Homo sapiens: one gene and its partner. The protein of the gene in region 1 binds, or shares a complex with, the protein of each later gene. Each region holds a gene or a part of one and is shown in the gene's direction. Other genes may lie near its edges.

Region 1 (10,448 bases):
ATTAGCTGGGTGTGGTGGTGTGCGCCTGTAATCCCAGCTACTCAGGAGGCTGAGGCAGGAGAATCACTTGAACCCTGGAGGCAGAGGCTGCAGTGAGCCAAGATCGCGCCACTGTACTCCAGCCTGGGTGACAGAGTGAAACTCCAACTAAAAAAAAAAAAAAGAGTCATGATATGGATGAAGAATGTTGAGAGGAGAGATCCAATGGGAATGTGCTATAGTACCGTTTGTTACTTTCTGGTTTTCCTGTGGGAATATCAGGAAAAAGCTCATATATTGTGGAGTTTATTTTCTAAATTGATTTTATCTAGGATTAGGTTCACTGTAAAAGAAAAGGTGAGACAGAAACCTGGAATTTTATTTATTTATTTATTTATTTTTGAGATGGAGTCTTGCTCTGTTGCCCAGGCTGGAGTGCAGTGGCGCGATCTTGGCTCTCTGTCCCCGCAAAAAAAAAAAGATTCCAACAAAGCAAAGCAATTAGCTTTGTTGAGTGAATAGATAGCAAAAGGTGTGGATGGACTGGCCCACATTTTCTTGCTCTTTAAAGATGATATTCCTAATAATAATGGACTAGAGTTATTTTGTGTGTGTGATTTGAGAGTCAAGTTTAGTGTCTTATAAGTGTTTTTCCCTCTGTCCCTCAGATTTGGATCATACAGCAGATGTCCAGTGAGTATAGCGGGAGTTCATTCCTTTGAAACCACGTCAGTAGGAAGACTGAATGTTTCAATCTTGGTATCCCTATCTTTAATTTTTCTCCTCTCATTTTGGTTCCTTCACAATATGAAAATGATGGTTTGAAAGCACTCAGTTTTGCAGGGTTCAGTGGCTCAGTGAGCCGAGATTGCACCACTGCACCCCAGCCTGGGTGACAGAGAGACCCCATCTCAAAAAATAAAAAATAAAAATAAGGCCGGGTGTGGTGGCTCAACGCCTGTAATCCCAGCACTTTGGGAGGCTGAGGCGGACGGATCATGAGGTCAGGAGTTCGAGACCAGCCTGACCAACATGGTAAAACCCCGTCTCTACTAAAAATACAAAAATTAGCCGGGTCTGGTGGTGCCTGCCTGTAATCCCAGCTACTTGTGAGGCTGAGGCAGGAGAATTGCTTGAACCCAGGAGGCAGAGGTTGCAGTGACCCGAGATCGCACTACTGCACTCCAGCTTGGGCAACAGAGTGAGACTCAGTCTAAAAAATCATAAATAAATAATAAAAAGAAAAGCACCTGGTTGCAGTGCTGTTAAATTGATTGAGGCCTTAAAATTTGTATTTATCATACTGAATTTATTTTGACTTTGCCTGCTATCAAATTTTCTTTCTTGCAGTGGATTGTATTACACAGAGCATGAATATACTTCTTTAGGTTACACGCATGGGGAGATACTCTGGAGGAAGCATTTGAGCAATGTGCAATGGCCATGTTTGGTTACATGACAGATACTGGGACAGTGGAGCCCCTCCAAACAGTAGAAGTAGAAACCCAAGGTAAATGATTTATTCACAAGGAAGAAATTGTTATACAGTACTGTATAGAATTGTGCAGTATTCTACATAATCTGAGTATATTTTCACAAAAAGAACCAGAAAATTAAGGATGAGTCTTTTCTTTCTCTTTAAACTGACCTAAGACATTTATTTATTGCACTTTTAAATTCAAGTATGTTTTTAGAGACCAGAATTATTAAATATACTATTTGATCTTGTGTAGGAGATGACTTACAGTCTCTTCTGTTTCACTTTTTGGATGAATGGCTTTATAAGTTCAGTGCTGATGAATTCTTCATACCCCGGGTAAGCAAAGGTTTTTCTTTTTTACTGAGCAAATGGATTCTTAGTTCATATTTTAAAATAGAACAGATGATTTAAAATAGGACATGTGAAACAAAACCAATCCATACAAATAAGATGATACTGATTTGCAGAGATTATAATGACCACGGGCACTTCCTGGTTAACCTGCATTTGCCTATGTGGGAACATTTCGTATTTAGATCTCATGTATTTGTCACTAATCAGGATTGTGTGATAAAAATGTACCTACAGTTTTCATCCACATTTTTTTCTGTTTTTGTTTTTGATAGAGACAGGGTGTTGCTATGTTGTCGAGGCTAGTCTTGAACTCCTAGCTTCCGGCAATCCTCCTGCCTCAATTTTGCAAAGTGCTGGGATTACAGGTGTGAGCATTGCACGCAGCCTCATCCACACTTTTTATGTTTCCCAAGTTTGAGCTATATTTATGTCCATCCATTTTTTCCTTTTGTTCCATGAAATTTAGTAGCCCTGTCACATTGGCCTAAGTTAAACAACTGCAGCTTTTAGTTTTCCTTAACATGAAAAAAGGAAAAGCCAAATGGAGATTGCTTGCTGCTGTCATCCTTTAGAAGGGAACACATCTGCAATGTCATTGTTATTTAATAGAGATGGCACTCTCTGCTTTTATAATTCCTCCATTCTCTGCTTTACCAGCTTCACTACTTATACTCATTCTATCAACTGAGTCACTCATCCTACAGAATTCAAGTGCCTACCAGTAGTTTATTAGGCTCAGAGTGATTGAAATCCTATGTCGTCCTCCTCCACCATATATCTGTTTTCCCCCAGCGTTAAACAACAGCTTTTATTGAAGTGGCAGTGTACAGCAGCGGCAGAGGTACTGCCCCTGTGTGCCCAGAGTAGTTCTCTACCATATATCTTGCAGAGAAATTCTTTTGACTCATATTTTTAGATCTTACATTTTTCTAGAATACCTCCCTTGAATATGTAAGAAAAAACTTATTTCCTTGAAATATATTTAATACTCAGCTTGGGCAACATGGCGAAACTCCCTGTCTCAAAAAAAACAAAAAAACAATAATTATCTGGGCGCAGTGGCACATGCCTGTGGTCCCAGCTACTCCAGAGGCTGAGGTGGGAGGATTGCTTGAGCTCGGGAGGTGAAGGTTGCAGTGAGCCAAGATCATGCCATGGCACTCCAGACTGGGCAACAGAGTGAAACCTTGTCTCAAACAAACAAACAAAAAAAACTGCATACATATATATCTCATTTGTTGTCCTATTTTAGCTAACATTTTAATTTTCTTTGCTTCACAGAAGTTGTGTGCTATTGTTTTCTAGAAAAGGTTGTAAAGGCCAGGCGCGGTGGCTTACGCCTGTAATCCCAGCACTTTGGGAAGCCGAGGCAGGTGGATCACCTGAGGTCAGGAGTTCGAGACCAGTCTGACCAATAAGGTGAAACCCCGTCTCTACTAAAAATACAAAAAAAATTGATTGGCCGGGCGTGGTGGCAGGCGCCTGTAGTCCCAGATGCTCAGCAGGTTGAGACAGGAGAATTGCTTGAACCTGGGAGGTGGAGGTTGCAGTGAGCCGAGATCACGCCACTGTACTCCAGCCTGGGCGATGGAGTAAGGCTCCATCTCAAAAAAAAAAAAAAAAAAAAAAAAAAAGGTTTTACCAATTTTTAGTAGATGGTCCAAAAAAACAAAACAGAACAAAAAGATTTTTAGTAGATAGTCTATTATGAACTTTTTTTAATTAAAAAATTTTTCTTCCTGTCTAGGAAGTGAAAGTACTTAGCATTGATCAAAGAAATTTCAAATTACGATCAATTGGGTAAGTTTTGAAAGTCTTTTAAGTACCGAGTTAAAGTTATATTCTTCATTGAATTCAATGAGCAAGGAAACAGATGGAAACATAAATCAGAGGGCCACTTGCAGATTGAGTTTTGTGGGATGTCTAAGGGCTTGGAAGGACCAGAAACTTAACAAAATAAAGTTGATTTTAATTGTTAAATCTGATTCCCAATTTGTTGATTTTTTAGGGAGAGAATATGTGTAATTGCTAAATGGCACAGCATAAAGCCCAGCTTAGTGGATGGGAAACACTGACACTTTTTTTCTCATATGTTCTCACTTCTAGACCTATTTAAATCAATTCCTTCTTTTAACAAATCGTACTTTTATTTTCCTTCCAGAGTTTGCAAACACTTGATTAGGTCACTTTGATTGGACTTGTTTCTCAGGTTTCTTTAGTCACTTAATTATATTTTTTAGGTTTTTTCTTTTTTTTCTTTTTTTTTTTTTTTGATACAGGGTCTTGTTCTGTCTCCCAGGCTGGAGTACAGTGGTGTGGTCATGGCTCACTGCAGCTTCAGCCTCCTGGGCTCAAGGGATCCTCCCACCTCAGCCTCCTGAATAGCTGGGACCACCAAGTGTGCCACTATGCCTGGCTGACTTTTTTGTTTTCTGAAGAGATGGGGTCTCCCCATGTTGCCCAGGCTGGTCTCAAACTCCTGGGCTCAAGCAGTCCTCTGGCCTCTGCCTCCCAAAGTGCTGAGGTAATAGGCATGAGCCACTGTGCCTGGCCCTCCTAGGTTACTTTTACATATAGCTTTTTTATTTTATTTTCATTTATTATTTATTTATTTATTTTTGAGACAGAGTCTCGCTCTGTTGCTCAGGCTGGAGTGTGTGATCTCAGCTCACTGCAACCTCCACCTCCTGGGTTCAAGCGATTCTTCTGCCTCAGCCTCCCGAGTAGCTGAGATTATACGCGCCTGCTACCACGCCTGGCTAATTTTTTGTATTTTTAGTATAGACGGGGTTTCACTGTGTTGGCCAGGCTGGTCTGAAGCTCCTGACCTCAGGTGATCTGCCCGCATCAGCCCTCCCAAAGTGTCGAGATTACAGGCTTGAGCCACTGTGCCCGGCCTCATTTATTTTTTTAGAAATGGGTTCTCATTCACTATGTTGCCCAGGCATCCTCAAACTCCTGGGCTCAAGTGATCCTCCTGCCTTGGCCTCCTGAGTAGCTGGGACAACAGGTGCATACCACCACGCCCGGCTCCATTTAATTTAATTTAATTTGATTGATTGATTGATTGATTTGAGACAGGGTCTTGCCCTGTCCCCCAGGCTGGAGTGCAGTGGTGTAATCATGGCTCACTGCAGCTTTGAACTCCTGGGTTCAAGTGATCCTCCTTTCTCAGCCTCCCAAGTAGCTGGGACTACAGGTGCGCACTACCATGCCCAGCTAATTTGTTGTTGTTGAGACAGAGTCTTGCTCTGTTGCCCAGGCTGGAGGGCAGTGGTGCAGTCTTGGCTCGCTGCAACCTCTGCCTCCAGAGTTCAAGCGATTCTCCTGCCTGAGCCTCCTGAGTAGCTGGGATTACAGGCGCCTGCCACCATGCCTGGCTAATCTCAGCTAATTTTTAATTTTTTATAGAGATGGGGTCTTGCTATGTTGCTAGGCTGGTCTCTAACTCCTGTGGCCCCATTTTATATTGAATTTCATTCACTTCTTTTTGTAAAGTGAGATCTTTTATTATCTTCTCTGTGTTTTTGTTTTGTTTTGTTTTTTGTTGTTTTTTAATGAGTAAAGAAACAGGCTTGCTGGGTGCAGTGGCTCACGCCTGTAATCCCAGCACTTTGGGAGGCCGAGGCGGGCAGATCAGGAGGTCAAGAGATTGAGACCATCCTAGCCAACATGGTGGAACCCCATCCCTACTAAAAATACAAAAATTAGCCAGGTGTGGTGGTGGGCACCTGTAATCTGAACTACTCAGGAGGCTGAGGCAGGAGAATCGCTTGAACCCAGGAGGCAGAGGTTGCAGTGAGCCAAGATTGTGCCACTGCACTCCAGCCTGGCAACAGCGCGAGACTCTGGCTCAAAAAAAAAAAAAAAAAAAAAAGAAACAAGCATGTCCAAAAGTACTAGCTAATAAGTGTTTGAACAGAATTTTAAAGCTTTGCTCTTTCTATTATACCACGTTGTGATCTTCACTCACATTAGTGTCAAAGACAGAGAGGAGACTGATCCTAAGTTCTAGATTACTTTTCTAGGGCCTTCTATATACAGATCATGGATATTTTTGGAAAAGTTGTAAAGTGTAAACCAAGTTCGGACTGTATTATAGAGTCTAGTATTTTGCCTTTGTGGTACTCAGACTTGCTTTCTCCAGTGGGAGGTATTATTTAATTAGTTTTTGTTTTTCTTTTTTGTTTTGTTTTTGTTGTTTTTGTTTTGAGAGAGGGTTTTGCTTTGTCTCTCAGCCTGGAGTGCAGTGGCATGATCATGGCTCACTGCAGCCATGACCTTTTGGGCTCAAGCAATCCTCCTACCTCAACCTCCCACCTAGCTAGGACAACAGACATATGCCACCATGCCTGGCTAATTTTTTTTTTTAATCTTTTGTAGAGACAGGGTCTCGCTACATTGCCCAGGCTGGTCTCAAACCCCTGAGCTCAAGCTATCTTCCTGCCTCAGTCTCCCAAAGTGCTGAGATTACAGGTGTGAGCCACCGCACCCAGCCTACTTAACTAGTTTCATAACTGAGGATAGTAAAAATTTTGAATATGTTACTACTCTGTTTTGAAACAATATTTACTAAACAATGTTTATTGAGATTCCACCATAGGTACACTATATTGGGGCACATTTATTTTGAGATCAACTATCAACCTTTTTTTAAAGTTTTTAAAATTAATTTTTTGTTTGTTTGTTTTTTAGACAGTCTCACTCTGTTGCCCAGGCTGGGAGTGCAATGATGTGATCTTGGTTCACTGCAATGTCCGCCTCCCAGATTCAAACCATTCTTGTGCCTCAGCCTCCCGAGTAGGTGGGACCACGGGCGCATGGAACCATGCCTGCCTAATTTTTGTATTTTTAGTAGAGACGAGTTCTCACCATGTTGGCCAGGCTGGTCTTGAACTCCTGGATTCATCTACCTCTGCCTCCCAAAGTGCTGGGATTACAGGTGGGAGCCACTGTGCCTGGCCACTAGAATTAAATTTTTTTTTTTTTTTGAGACAGAGTCTCGCTCTGTTGCCCAGGCTGGAGTGCAGTGGCATGATCTCAGCTCACTGCAATCTCCGCCTCCTGGCTCAAGCGATTCTCCTGCCTCAGCCTCCTGAGTAGTTCGGATTACAGGTGCCTACCACCACGCCTGGCTAATTTTTGTATTTTTAGTAGAGACAGAGTTTCATCATGTTGGCCAGGCTGGTCTTGAACTCCTGACCTCAGGTGATCCGCCTACCTCGGCCTCCCAAAGTGCTGGGATTACAGGCATGAGCCACCGCGCCTGACCTTTTTCATTTCGCTCTGTTGCCTAGGGTGGAGTGCAGTGGCGCGATCTTGGCTCACTGCAACCTCCACCTCCTGGGTTCAAGCGATTCTCCTGCCTCTGCCTCCCAAGTAGCTGGGATTACAGACATGCGCCACCACGCCCGGCTAATTTTGTGTTTTTAGTAGAGACAGGGTTTTTCCATGTTGGTCAGGCTGGTCTCAAACTGCCGACCTCAACTGCCGACCTCAGATGATCCACCTGCTTCGGCCTCCCAAAGTGCTGGGGTTACAGGCATGAGCCACCGCGCCTGGCCTATAATTAAAAATTCTTTTGAAACACAGTCTTGCCCTGACACCCAGGCTAGAGTGCGGTGGTGCAATCACAGCTCACTGCAGCCTTGACTTCTGGGCTCAAGCAATCTTCCTGCCTCCTCCTCGTGAGTGGCTGGGACCACAGGCATGTGCCACCACACCCAGCTAACTTTTTTTATTTTTTTAATTTTGTGTACAGATGAGGTCTCCCTATGTTGCTCAGGCTGTTCTCAAACTCCTGGGCTCAAGCGATCCTCCCTTTGGCCTCCGGAAGTGCCAGGATTATAGGTATGAGCCACCGCACCTGGCCTTAACTATCAACCTTGAGAGCAAATGATGACACTGCACACACGTCCCTCAACAGCTGTATCTTCTGACAAATGAAAATGAAACTTAACAGCTCCCTGACCCCCTCCTGTCTCTTTTGGCTTTCTAGCATGTTAACCACATTTACAAGGCTTATTTTAAAACATATAAAGAGAGAACAAATCTTAATCATGTTTTAATTTGTATTCTCAAGGTGGGGAGAAGAATTTTCATTGTCCAAGCACCCTCAGGTATGTTTTAAAATCCAGCCATTAAGAACATGAAAAATTTCCTTACCATAAAGTTCATATATGTGACAATCAACTTCAGTTAGTTCTAACTGGTGTAAAGTGATAAGTTTTTCTCAAGCTTCTCTGACCTGTCTGGATATATTTTGTTAAAATACTGTGATTATACACACCTGATTTAGTGGATGAGGCGTCAGCATTGGGTTCTAGGGTCAAGTTTGTTCAGATTATTGTGGAATTTGAAATTCTCTTTGCCTTTTTGACCTTTATTTCTTCTCCTATAATAAAGATGTTGGACTAGATGTTCTCTATTGTGCCTTCTACTTTCTGTGTGTCTCTAGATTCTGTATTTGCCGACCTGTATGGCCTCACTCTATGGTAGGAAAATCTATTGGAACAGGAGTTGGCAGTTTTTTTCTGTAAAATGGACAGATAATAAATGTTTTAAGATTTGTGGGCCCAGAATGACAGAAGAGCAGCTACTCAGTGCTTCTGTTGTAGCACCAAAGTAGCCATAGATAATACTTAAATGAATGAGTTCACTTGTATTCTAGTAAAACTTATTTATGCCCATTGAAATTTGAATTTCTTATCATTTTCAAATGTAACAAAATGTCATTGTTTTGATTTTTTTCCCCAACCATTTAAAAATGTAAAAATCAGGGCAGGCATGGTGGCTCAGACCTGTAATCCCAGCACTTTGGGAGGCCAAGGCAGGCAGATCGCTTTAGGTCAGGAGTTTGAGACCAGCCTGGCCAACATAGTGAAACCTAGCCTCTACTAAAAATACAAAAATTAGCTGGGCGTGGTGGCACGCGCCTGTAATCCTAGCTGCTCAGGAGGCTGAGGCAGGAGAATCACTTTAACCTGGGTGGCAGAGGTTGCAGTGAGCCGAGATCATGCCACTGCACTCCAGCCTGGGTGACAGAGCGAGACTGGTCTCAAAAAAATAAAATAAAAGTAAATAAATAAAGATGTAAAAATCACTCTTACTTTATGGGACTGTACAAAAAGAGGCAATTTGGCCTGTGGGCTATATATATTTTGCTGACCCCTGTGTTTAGGCCAGATACAGACAGGTCACTTAACTACTGGGATACATTCTGAGAAATGCATCTTTAGGCGATTACATCATTGTGCAAACATCATGGAGTGTACTTACACAAACCTAGATGCTATAACCTATGCTATATGGTATAGCCTATTGCTCCTAGGCTATGAACCTGTACAGCATGTTACTATACTGAATACTATAGGCAGTTGTTACACATTGGTAAATATTTGTGTATTTATATTTCTAAATACCAAAAAAAGGTATAGTAAAAATACAGTATTATAGGCCCGGCGTGGTGGTTCACGCCTGTAATCCCCGCATTTTGGGAGGCCGAGGTGGGTGAATCACCTGAAGTCAGGAGTTCTAGACCAGCCCGGCCAACGTGGTGAAACCCCATCTCTACTAAAAATACAAAAATTAGCTGGGTGCGGTGGCGGGCGCTTGTAATCCCAGCTATTCGGGAGGCTGAGGCAGGAGAATCGCTTGAACCTGGGAGGCAGAGGTTGCAGTGAGCGGAGATCACGCCATTGCACACTCCAGCCTGGGCGACAAGAGCAAAACTCCATCTAAAAAAAAAAAAAAGAAACAGCATTATAATCTTCTCAGACCACCATCATATATGCAGTTAGTCATTGACCAAAATGTTATGCGGCACATAACTGTATTCTAAATTCATATTTGTCATTGGAAGTGTTCAGAATGGATTGTGAGCAAATTAATTTCATTTATTCCTAAGAGTTTTTGTTTATGTGAGACAGTGCCTTGCTGTGTTGCCCAGGCTGATCCGAAACTCCTAGTCTCAAGCAATCCCCCCACTTCAGTCTCCTGAGTAGCTGAGCTTACAGGTGCACACCACCAATTCCAGCTTGGTACTCCTAACAGTTTTTGTTTTGTTTTGTTTTGTTTTGTTTTGTTTTGTTTTTGAGACGGAGTCTCATGCTATTGCCCAGGCTGGAGTGCAGTGGCACGATCTCAGCTCACTGCAACCTCCGCCTCCCAGGTTCAAGCGATTCTCCTGCCTCAGCCTCACAAGTAGCTGTGATTACAGGCACATGACGCCATACCTGGCTAATTTTTTGTATTTTTAGTAGAGATGGGGTTTCACCATGTTGGCCAGGCTGATCTCGAACTCCTGAGCTCAGGTGATTTACCTACCTCAGCCTCCCAAAAGAGGCGTGAGCCATCGCGCCCAGCCAACAGTTTTTTTTATTATTATTATTCTTTCTTTTTTTTTTTGAGACAGTCTCACCCTGTCACCCAGGCTGGAGTGCAGTGACGTGACCTCTACTCACTGCAACCTCCCCCTCCCAGGTTCAAGCGATTCTCGTGTCTCAGCCTCCCGAGTAGCTGGGATTACAGGCCCATGCAACCATGCCAGGCTAATTTTTGTATTTTAGTAGAGACTGGGTTTCACCATGTTGGCCAGGCTGGTTTCGAACTCCCGACCTCAGGTGATCCACCCACC
Region 2 (10,448 bases), on another chromosome or scaffold:
TATTACTGCCAATGCCTCTATACTACTACTATTAATACTACTGTATTCTTTTCCTTTGCTCTTAGAAAATATTTTTAAAATTTTCAGTGGACTTCTTAAAACTTTGAAATATATTTTTAGGATTTTATGTTTGTTTATATTACATTTTATGGTCTATTCATGTGTACAAGACAGTACAGAATTCTGCATGTAGAAAGGTATCTGGAGAATATAAAAAATTGTCTAGGCTGGGCACGGTGGCTCATGCCTATAATCCAAGCAGTTTGGGAAGCCAAGATGGGTGGATCACCTGAGGTCAGGGGTTCGAGACCAGCCGGGCCAACGTGGCGAAACCCCGTCTCTACTAAAAACACAAAATTAGCCAGGTGTGGTGGCGCATGTGTGTAATCTCAGCTGCCCAGGGGGCTGAGCCAGGAGAATCATTTGAACTCAGGAGGCGGAGGTTGCAGTGAGCCAAGATTGTGCCATTGCACTCCAGCCTGGGCAACAGAACAAGACTCTGTCTCAAAAAAAAGAAATATGTATGTATGTGTGTGTATATATGTACATATACACACACGTATTTCTGATGTGAAACACCTGGAATGACAGTAAGAATAATTTCAACATATCAGAACCTAAACAGTTATTATCCTTCAAGTTGATTTTATTATAATCTTATATTACATATAATTAATGTTACATATAATACTATTATATGCAACATTTATTTGAATATACAGCTTCTGACATTTATTTAAATTACTTGGTTACACCCTACATGTATGTTACATGGCTACTCTTTTCAGTGGCATTTCCATAATATGAAAGTTAAGGTTTAGATAGATAATGATTTATTGTATATCCTTTTTAAAGTTATTCTTTTTAGTTAATTGCTCTATGTGTATTGAGACTAGGAATCAGAAAGCTTAGATTCTAGTCCCAGGTGTAAGTTGTGTAACCCTTGGCAAGTGTCAATCTCTAGGCCTCAGCTTTCTCATCTATAAAATGAGGAAGTTGTCGTATTCTATTTTTTTTCTTAAGATGATACACTTAAATGTTCCCTTCTGTTGGGTTATATAATTGCATCAAAAGTGTAGTAATGTTATTAAAAAATTGTTAGAGATCCAAACTAAGGTCTCTTTCAACTCTCCCATTCTTTTTTCTGTGACTTTATGGTAATAATGAAACTGGTGGTTTTCTTTTCTTCCCCCTCACAGTATCTCAGAGATGTTAACTGTCCTTTCAAGATTCAAGATCGACAAGAAGCTATTGACTGGCTTCTTGGTTTAGCTGTTAGACTTGAATATGGAGATAATGGTACGTTTTGTGGGGAATGTGTATTTTAAAGAGAGAGGAAAGATGGGAAAGGGAGTGTGAAAATGTAGGGAACTTTGCAGTTTGTTTTGTCTAGTACTATTTTACCTTTGGTTTATTCTTATCACAAGTTAAAAGCACTTTTATTGTCTTTCATTGGTGTTTATATATTTCTGTTAGAATTTGGAAATGGTGCCCTCTGGAGAAGGCTAATTGACTGTCTTCTCACAGAGTAACACTACTTTGATAATATGGTCTGCACCTTAGCCTTTCAAATTAAATTGTTTTTAGTGTCCCAGAATTGATGGGACTTTGAAGTGTTGTTGCAGTAGGTAATTTCTCAAAAGACTGAAACATGTCTAATGCCAATATACATTAATACTCTATAGGCCAGAATATATTACTTATGTTTACTGTCTTAGCACAGATACTTCTATGGTTGGAAGCTTCTGAATGTTAGTACCTATAGTAAAAACAATTTTTCTTTAAACGGGTGTTTTCTCTTATTAGACCATTTCATTTTGAAAGGCCTGCCAACATCTAAATGCAAGATTTGATTATCTTATCTGCATCCCCTGCATTTTGTGTTTTTCGGTTAGTTACAGTCTTCTTAATTATTTACTTTGGAAGCCTTTTTATATCTTGGCTTATCCCTTTCCCTTCATCCCACCTACACTGACTTTTTCTCATGTTTGTTGTATCTTCATTCCCATTGGCATAATCCTAATTCAGGCTCTTGTCACTTTCTGCCAGGAGTATTATAATATCTCCCATTAGTGTCACCTTCTGTTCTTAACTGCATGGCCAACCAAGCTAACTTTCTGAAACGTTAATCTATTTTAGGATGCCACTTACTCCTTGTTTCCAAAGAACAGTTCCAGTTACATATTCATATTAATAAACATACATATCCATAAACACTAATTTCCCATTTTCTATAAAAAGAATTTTAAGCTCCTTAGCATGGTAGTTAATGATGACTGATATCCAACCTGTATTCACATCTTGACATCCCAGCTAAATTAGAATAATAGTGCTTCCTGTTTATATCCCATTTCCCCCTCTGTTTCTTTGTTCACACTTTTCCCTTGGCTAATATACCATTTCATTCTATCTACACATCTAAATCCTACCCATCTTTTTAAGATCCATCTCATATGCTGTCTTATGTCTTAGCAGCAGTATAATTTCCCTCTGAACTTCCATAGCTTTTAACCCTATACATTTTAAGTCATTAACCACTTTCCATTTTGCTTCTATGTCTTATTCGTCCCAGTAATTTGTAAACTGATACTCAGCTTTGATTCCTACATGGTACCTCTCTTAGCTTCCAATTGATGCTGTAACAAATTACTACAAACTCAGTGACTGAAAACACAATTTATTATTTTAGAATGAGAAGGCCAACATTAGCCTCACTGGGTTCATGTCAAGTTGTCAGCAAGGCAGGTTCCTTTTGGAGGCTCTCGGGGGAATCTGTTTCTTTCCTTTTTTAACTTCTAGAGGCTGCCTGAATTCCTTGACTCTGGCCCCTTCTTCCTTCTTCAAGTCTAGCAGCATAGCATTTTCCAGTCTCTTATCTGATTCTGCTTCCATTGTCATAACTTTGTCTCTGGCTCTGATCCTCCTGAGCCCACCTGGATAATCCAGGATAATCCCCTATCTCAAGATCCTTAATTTTATCATATTTGCAAATCTTGCCATGTAAGGTAACACATACACAGGTTCCAGGGATCAGGACATGGACATCTTGGGGGGTACAGGTCAATATTGTGTCTGTCACAGTACCTGACATAGTTTCTTGCACACAACAGGTGCTTATCAATTTCAGTAATGTGTGGCGAATGCAGTATATGTGAGTGTTTACATACACTGATTTGGAGCATCAGCCAATTTTTTGCTGATGCCTCAGACTTAAATTTCAGAAGCCTTATGGCAAAAATCTTAAGGAAAGCTCAATTTGAGACTTCGTTTACTTTTCCATTTAATTTAAAAAAAAAAAACTTTTCTTTCTTTAGAAAATACATGTATTCATAAGCCTTATGGCTTTAGTGTAGTATTGATTTTAGGGCCTTTAACAAGGTCTTTTTATCTACCCTGCTCTGGATTGGTAGGAATTGTATATGAGCCAATTTGTAGCTTATCAAAACTGTTTTTCATTTATTCCCAAATTCTTACATCTCAGTTTATTTGTTTTATTCTATTTGTTCCATTTTTATAACCCGTTAACCTTCAATGGTAGATGCATATGGTCATGTATACCTGCAGTTGACTTTAGTAAGTACATGTATTTCTCAGTAATAGCATGTTCTTTTAGTGAATAAAAGAAGCTTGTGTGTGGAATGTAAATTTTTCAATATTGAAAAAGGAAGTCAACATATACTTGAAGGTGAATGGTATCAAAAGTATATTAAAAGTCTAAGCTAGAAAACAAGTTTTGTTTATTAAAATTCAGAATTGCAAAAACAGACTTGAAAATTGGTCAAATAATACTGTCTCTAATCGGTAGGAGGCGCTGATGTTCTTTTGTGGTTTTACATTGATATGTTGCCTCCTTGACTTTTAAGTTACTTATTTTAAAATTTGCTGAAACCATTGTGAGTTTTTATTATTTGCGCTCTACTATTTTTTGAAGCCTTTTGGTAGCTTGTCAACATGATCAATAACTGAAATTTTTTAAATGTATAATTTCAGATGTATAGAAAAATTACAAAATAGTACAAAGATTTTCATATACCTCAAGTCTACAAATGTAGCGTGTTACCTCATTTGCTTCATCCTTCTCTCTACACAGAGGCACACACCATTTTTTTCCAAACCATTTGATAGTAAATTATAGATGATTCCTTTTTACTCTTAAACACTTTAAAGTGCATTTCCTAAAAACAACTTTGTCTTATATAACCACAGTACAGTGATCAAAATCAGGAAGTTATCTTTGATATACTATTATTTATTCACATTTTACCAAACCCCCCACTTCTCTCGAAAGAAAAAAATAACCCAGAGCAATCCTGGATTATGCACCGCATTAGTTGTTACATCTGTCTTAGTATCTTAAAATCTGGAACAGTTCCTGTCTTTATTTGTGCTTCATGACCCTGACATTTATTTTGTAGAGTGTCCCTCAATTTGGATTTATATGATGTTTCCTCATGATTAGATTTGGGGTTTATACTTTTGTTAGGAGTAACACAGAAGTGATGTGTTCTTTTTAGTGCATCATATTAGGAGATACGTGATAGCGATATGTCCCATTACTAGTTATGTTACTTTGATCACTAGGTTATGGTTTCTCCACTGTAAAGTTACTATTTTCCTCTTTGTAATAAATATATCTTGTGGGGAGGTACTTTGAGACTGTATCAATTATGTTTTTGCGCCTCAAGTTTCCCCCACTAGTTTTAGCAACCATATGATGATTCTTGCCTCAGTCATTTATTATGTTAATCGACAAAAGGTGTTCTCTAATTTCATCATTTTTTCTACATTTATTTGTTGGCTTTCTCTTGTAAGTTTTCCCATCTCTAATTTACTTGTTTAAATCAGTATAGATACATGGATTTTTATTTTATTCAATGGATTATAATCCTTTCTGTCATCACGTATTTTGCTGTTGATACTGTTCCAGATTTGGCCAGTGGAAGCCTTTTTAACTCTGACTTAAATTTTATGCTTTTATTTTTTCCTCGTTTCATTAACAGATCCCATAAGCACTGTATAGCCTAAGATGCCATTTTGAACATTAAGTTTAGTGAATTATTAATAAGTGTTTTTATTTTTGAATTCCTTTGAAGTATTGTTTTTCAAATGAAAATAATAAAATCTACCTTTGGAATTCTGAATTTCAAGTTTCCATGAAATAAGTTTGAGGTTTGTATATGATGGTGTATTTGATGTATTGATTTTTTTGGGGAAAGCAAGGTTTTTGGATTTTATGTACAGCATTCAAAAGAAGATGGGGGGAAGCGTACTTTTTAATGAGTTTGTATTTAATCTTACGTAACCTATACTTAACCCTCCTCCCATTCTTCTACCCCAGATTTCAGAGGAAGCTGTAAAAGCAGATTTTTACCTTCCTAAAATTTACATGTTTGAAATGATTGCCTTTAGAAATGTTAATGAAAAGATATTTGTGTCACATAGTCCAGTAATTGCTTTAGCTTAATCAAAAAGATAGTTACATTGTCTTTTTACATTTTCTATAGCAAAAATTAAGCTTGATTGAATGAATTGTTTTATGCTTATACAGGTTAAGCATCCCTAATCCGAGAATCTGAAATCCTAAATGCTCCAAAATCCAAAACTTTTTGAGCACTGACATGAGGACACAAGTAGAAATTTCCACACATAAGCACTTAACACAAACTTTATTTCATGCACAAAATTATTAAAAATATTATATGAAATTACCTTCAGGCTATGTGTATAAGTTGTACATTGAACATAAAAATGAATTTTGTGTTTAGACTTCAGTCCCATCCCCAAAATATCCCATTTTATATATGCAGATAATCCGAAGTCTGAAAAAATTTAAAATTGGAAATTATTGGCATTTCCAGTAAGGGAAACTCAACCTGTAATCATTTTGGCTCAGTTAAATTTGGTAAATAGCAGTAGTCATTTTACCTTGAGTTGCAGTTGTACAAATTATATTTTTGCCTGTTTTTATAGCTGAAAAATACAAGGATTTAGTACCTGATAATTCAAAAACTGCTGACAATGCAACTAAAAATGCAGAACCATTGATCAATTTGGATGGTGAGTATATAAATGCATAACATTGAACATCAACATTTTTGGTTTTTTAAATGTTTTTTTCTTTGAAGAATGAAGTCCAGGTTTACTTGGTTTTAGTAAATTTAGAAGGATCCATGCAGACAGCATTTATGTTAACATTTTATTCTCTATAATGTTTTTATGATGTGCTTTCTCCTTCCCCTTGCATTTGAATATCTGAATGTTGATTTGATTTGCTTCTAGTAATTTGGAGTTTTGATTTGTATTTAATCATGGGGGTCATTGTTTGCCTTTTTGAATGTGTAAATTTCTTTTAATCCAATGACTCTATCAGACAAGTGGTAAAATTTTCCATTATTTTAAGTCCTGGATATCTTTTAGTAATTTCCCTTTTTAAAAATATGAAGAATCTAATTACCTAAATTATGATGTGTAAAATATTTGTTCACTGGCTAATTCATTGTGACCTATAATTTAGGAGTTAACCCTTTTGAATGAGTGAGCCTCTTGGACACTCCAGAGCTGCTGCTTAGAGAGAAGGTTTTGGGAAAACTATCCATGGAGGGGATCTATGTACTAAAATTAATGGCCTTGGGAAGAAATGTTAATTAAAAGTGCTGTATAATTTAGCCTTGCAGAAAAAGTTACAGGACAAATATAATGTGAGTTAAATTAGTCATTTATTGGATTATTCAGTTTGGCTGATGAAATACAGATACTCCTTGACTTAGGATGAGATCATGTCCCAAAGTCGAAAATATCATAAGTCAAAAATGCATTTAATACCCCGGAAGACCCATTGTAAAGCTGAAAAATTGTAGTTGGAACCACTGTAAGTTCAGATTTTCCTCATCTTGCACTAGGGTTACATCCCACTGAACTCATTGTAAGGTCAAAAAATTACAAGTCTAACCATCCTAAGTTGGGGACCGTCTCATACAGTAATAGGAAAACCATTTTATCTTACCAATTTATTTAATTGTTGATAGTCTACAGGGCTTTCTTTTTTCTCTTGTGAGTAGCAGTTTTAAAAACTAAGAGATTTGTTGCTACCGAAAAGTTAAAAATGTTTTTGTATGTTCACAAATATGTTTGTAATTATACGTTTGCAGGGTTGTAAGTTTTTGTTTGTTTTTAATCTTTTATAGTAAATAATCCTGATTTTAAGGCTGGTGTGATGGCTTTGGCTAACCTGCTTCAGATTCAGCGTCATGATGATTACCTGGTAATGCTTAAGGTCAGCTTCATGTTCTTGATTCTTGACAGAAACTGTGCACATAGAAAAATGTCTTTATTTTCTAAATATTAACTATTGATATTAAAATTATGGTTGAATGACTAAAATACACAGAAGAATATGAAACATAAAGTAGATTTCATGGTTTTATCTGATTTGGATTCTGTTTTCTGCCTGCACTATGCTAAATCCTTTGCAAAGATGTTCTCATTCAATCCTGCCAACAATCCTAGAGACAGCTGCTAATATCTTTTTAAAAATATATATCATATGAAGAAACTGAGACTCAATGAGGATAATGTCTAAGATGACACAGAAAATGACAGAGCCAGGATTTTAAGCACTATAACCCTGTGGTCCATTGTTTTTCCCACATTACCCTACTTCTGTTTAGTTAGTCTTTTTAATGATTCATAGTCTGCATTTGTTAAGATGGTCGAAAATGCCAAATGAGTAATGGTGAATTTGGTCAAAAATATATAACCCCAAAATCTCTTTGAGAAATGAATCTTTCTGTCCCCGATGCTAGATAGGCCACTCAGTTCATAACTATACTTCAGGAATCCCAGTAATCTGAAAGAGGTCTCTTGTTTCTGAGAGAAATCATAAACTTCAGAAGATTTATTCCTAGTAATCGTGAAAGTACAGTGGTGTGGATCAGGGGAGTGGTACTTAAGATACCAGACTTGGAAATTTTATAAGAGATTAAAAGCTTTTAACTAGACCTTGTGCATGTAAACTACTTTGTGATAAATATCACTCTACCCAGAAGAGATTAAGCCATAACTTACCATGCTTTTTAGATTTTTATTATTAAATGTCAGTTTTAACAAGACTGTTGTATTCCTAAGTTATTAAAATTTTCTATACTGAATCTGAATGTTAACTTGGATTTTCTCAATCCAGATTGCATGCCAAAAGACAAAAATGTTTTTAGTGAAATTTAGCTATTTCAAAGGCTTGTTCTTTATTCCGACAATTATGTAAATTGCCTTGGAACTGTTCTATAGTGATCATGTCAGCTTTAATCATAAAGTAAGTGAGAGGAGAGTCAGACAATGCATAGCGTATTTGGGATGCTTTTGTTAGACTTCAAAACCCAAGGGGATAAAGTATAAATCAACTACAACAAAATGCTATAAAATTCTAGTCCTGCTGCACATTTGTCCCTTTTGAGTTATTTTAAGAGGCATTCAAACAATAACATAATATGGAAAACATCTTAGTACGTTTGCCAAGTACAAGCATCAGTATATTAACTGTTTGGCAACCAGACTATTTAATAACATCTGCAATAACTGTTAAACATTGTTTGAATTCGGTTTTTCAAAGATAGCATTTGGTTTTTTATTTAAAAATTATAGTTTAAGTTTTCACACTTATTTTTGAGTTGTAATTGTCATCTTCCTAATTAAAATTCCATTTTTTTAAAATTTGATTTTTAAGTGTGTATGGATACTTGCATGCATGCCTACCATAATGAAATGCCTTGGTGATTAAAACCACCAACGGTGTCCTTTGAAAGGTTTGAAAATATTTTACTAGAGTGAAGTGATAAAAGCAAAGTGTAAGACAGTATGTATGATCTGCTACCCTTTGTGTCAAAAATGTGTATTCGTGCTAAGCATGCTCGTCATTTCGCAGTTTTAGTGAGGGTAAGGAATCTGTAGGGGATCGCAAGGCTCAGGTAGGAAGGAGACCTACTTTTTACCATGTGTCTTGCTGTATTTAAAGTTGTTTTTTACCAGTCACGTGCATTACCTATTCAAAAAATGGTTTTAATTGTTGCAAGCACCATTCAACATTATTAAAATACTAGAAGTGTGAAAGGTTACGTTATATTAGTGGGTTTTTTTTATTTTTAATTTAATGGGGAGTTTATTAATGAACTTAGGTAATTCTGACTTCATCAAAATGAGCATCCTTATTCTCTGGGCTCATAGAAGAAAGGATGACAGGTACACAGCCTATAAAAAGTAAAAATATTTTTGGGTTTCTTAGGCAATTCGGATTTTGGTTCAGGAGCGCCTGACACAGGATGCAGTTGCTAAGGCAAATCAAACAAAAGAGGTACGTTTCTATAAATCCTAAATAAGTTGTTAATGAACATTTCTTCTGGTATGGCCGTGATTTTAAACTTTGCATGTATCTGTTTAAGATATCCATTCTACGTTCTACAACTTAGAGAAAGGATAGCTTACTTCAGTGCTTCCTAAAGCAAATTGAATGTATTCAGTGGCTAGGGGGTCATTTTTGAGTGAAAAACTTCATGTTCCTCTCACTTTGTACCTTAAAAAAGCCACAAATAGCTCATGCACAGTCCACAAATCATGCTTGTGGCCCGTTGAAGTTTATTTAAAATGAGTTACCCATATGAAACTTACTGGATTATTTTGACTCATGCTGGAGAAGAAGGAACACACCTCACTACAAATTAGTTTTCTTTTTCTATCTAAATTCTATCCTTGCTCTTATTTCTTCAGAGTAAATTCTTGTTTTATTCAATTTCCTGGCATAAAACATGAGAAAGTAATTTGGCTAAGGTCACCTAGTTGGTAAGTGACTGAGCTCAGGCAGTCTGACTTGAGAGCCTGTGCTCTTACGGTAGGTGGGGAGAAGGGTCCATGCGTGGATGTCTGCATGAGCTTGTCAGTCTGCCCAGGTGAAGGGACAGGGGGTTCTGTTGGAGTGTAAGGTTCAAGGTACAGGTGACTGAAATGGTATCTTTCAGTCCTACCTTGTAGGCTGAGAAAAGCTATATCCCATGACTACCTTCCCCTTAAAGAGAAAATATGGAACATTTTTAGATTATATCAGAAATCCAAAGATGCCTAAAGTTTCACTGGCTGTGCAGCGGTGGAGAGACTGTCCTCAGGTCAGCAGCAGCAGTGTCTGATAACACCTGCCTCCTGCAGCAATGATGTTGTAGTGAATGCCTTGGGCACAACTATGTTGTTTGTCCTCCCTGCGCCCTTCCCCCATCTCCCAATGCCTTTTGTCCTCCAGCCCCTTTAGGCAGGCCAAGCAGTGTTAAAAGGTTACTAATGCCAGGGCAGTATCTCTGAAAGACACTGTTTTCTTTTAAAGGTTCTTACTGGCTCGTTGTATATGAATCGAGCCACTGGAAGTTGGGTTAAAGATCAGCTTATTTCACCCTCCCTATAGAACAGACAGT

What was found.
Region 2: ZBTB8OS (region 1) and RTRAF share a complex: the UniProt entries of both Homo sapiens proteins name them as parts of the tRNA-splicing ligase complex.

What each region holds. Positions count from the first base shown.
Region 1 is NC_000001.11:32,624,992-32,635,439, reverse strand, and holds part of ZBTB8OS (protein archease), read left to right. Parts: intron 1-641; exon of another isoform or gene 642-647; coding exon 648-672; exon of another isoform or gene 673-724; coding exon of another isoform or gene 725-738; intron 739-1,329; exon of another isoform or gene 1,330-1,367; coding exon 1,368-1,489; intron 1,490-1,712; coding exon 1,713-1,795; intron 1,796-2,085; coding exon of another isoform or gene 2,086-2,130; exon of another isoform or gene 2,131-2,861; intron 2,862-3,094; coding exon of another isoform or gene 3,095-3,118; exon of another isoform or gene 3,119-3,232; intron 3,233-3,560; coding exon 3,561-3,613; intron 3,614-7,574; coding exon of another isoform or gene 7,575-7,663; intron 7,664-7,895; coding exon 7,896-7,932; intron 7,933-10,448. UniProt on the Homo sapiens protein: Component of the tRNA-splicing ligase complex required to facilitate the enzymatic turnover of catalytic subunit RTCB. Together with DDX1, acts by facilitating the guanylylation of RTCB, a key intermediate step in tRNA ligation.
Region 2 is NC_000014.9:51,992,524-52,002,971, forward strand, and holds part of RTRAF (RNA transcription, translation and transport factor protein), read left to right. Parts: intron 1-1,199; coding exon 1,200-1,299; intron 1,300-5,970; coding exon 5,971-6,057; intron 6,058-7,184; coding exon 7,185-7,273; intron 7,274-9,274; coding exon 9,275-9,343; intron 9,344-10,448. UniProt on the Homo sapiens protein: RNA-binding protein involved in modulation of mRNA transcription by Polymerase II. Component of the tRNA-splicing ligase complex and is required for tRNA ligation.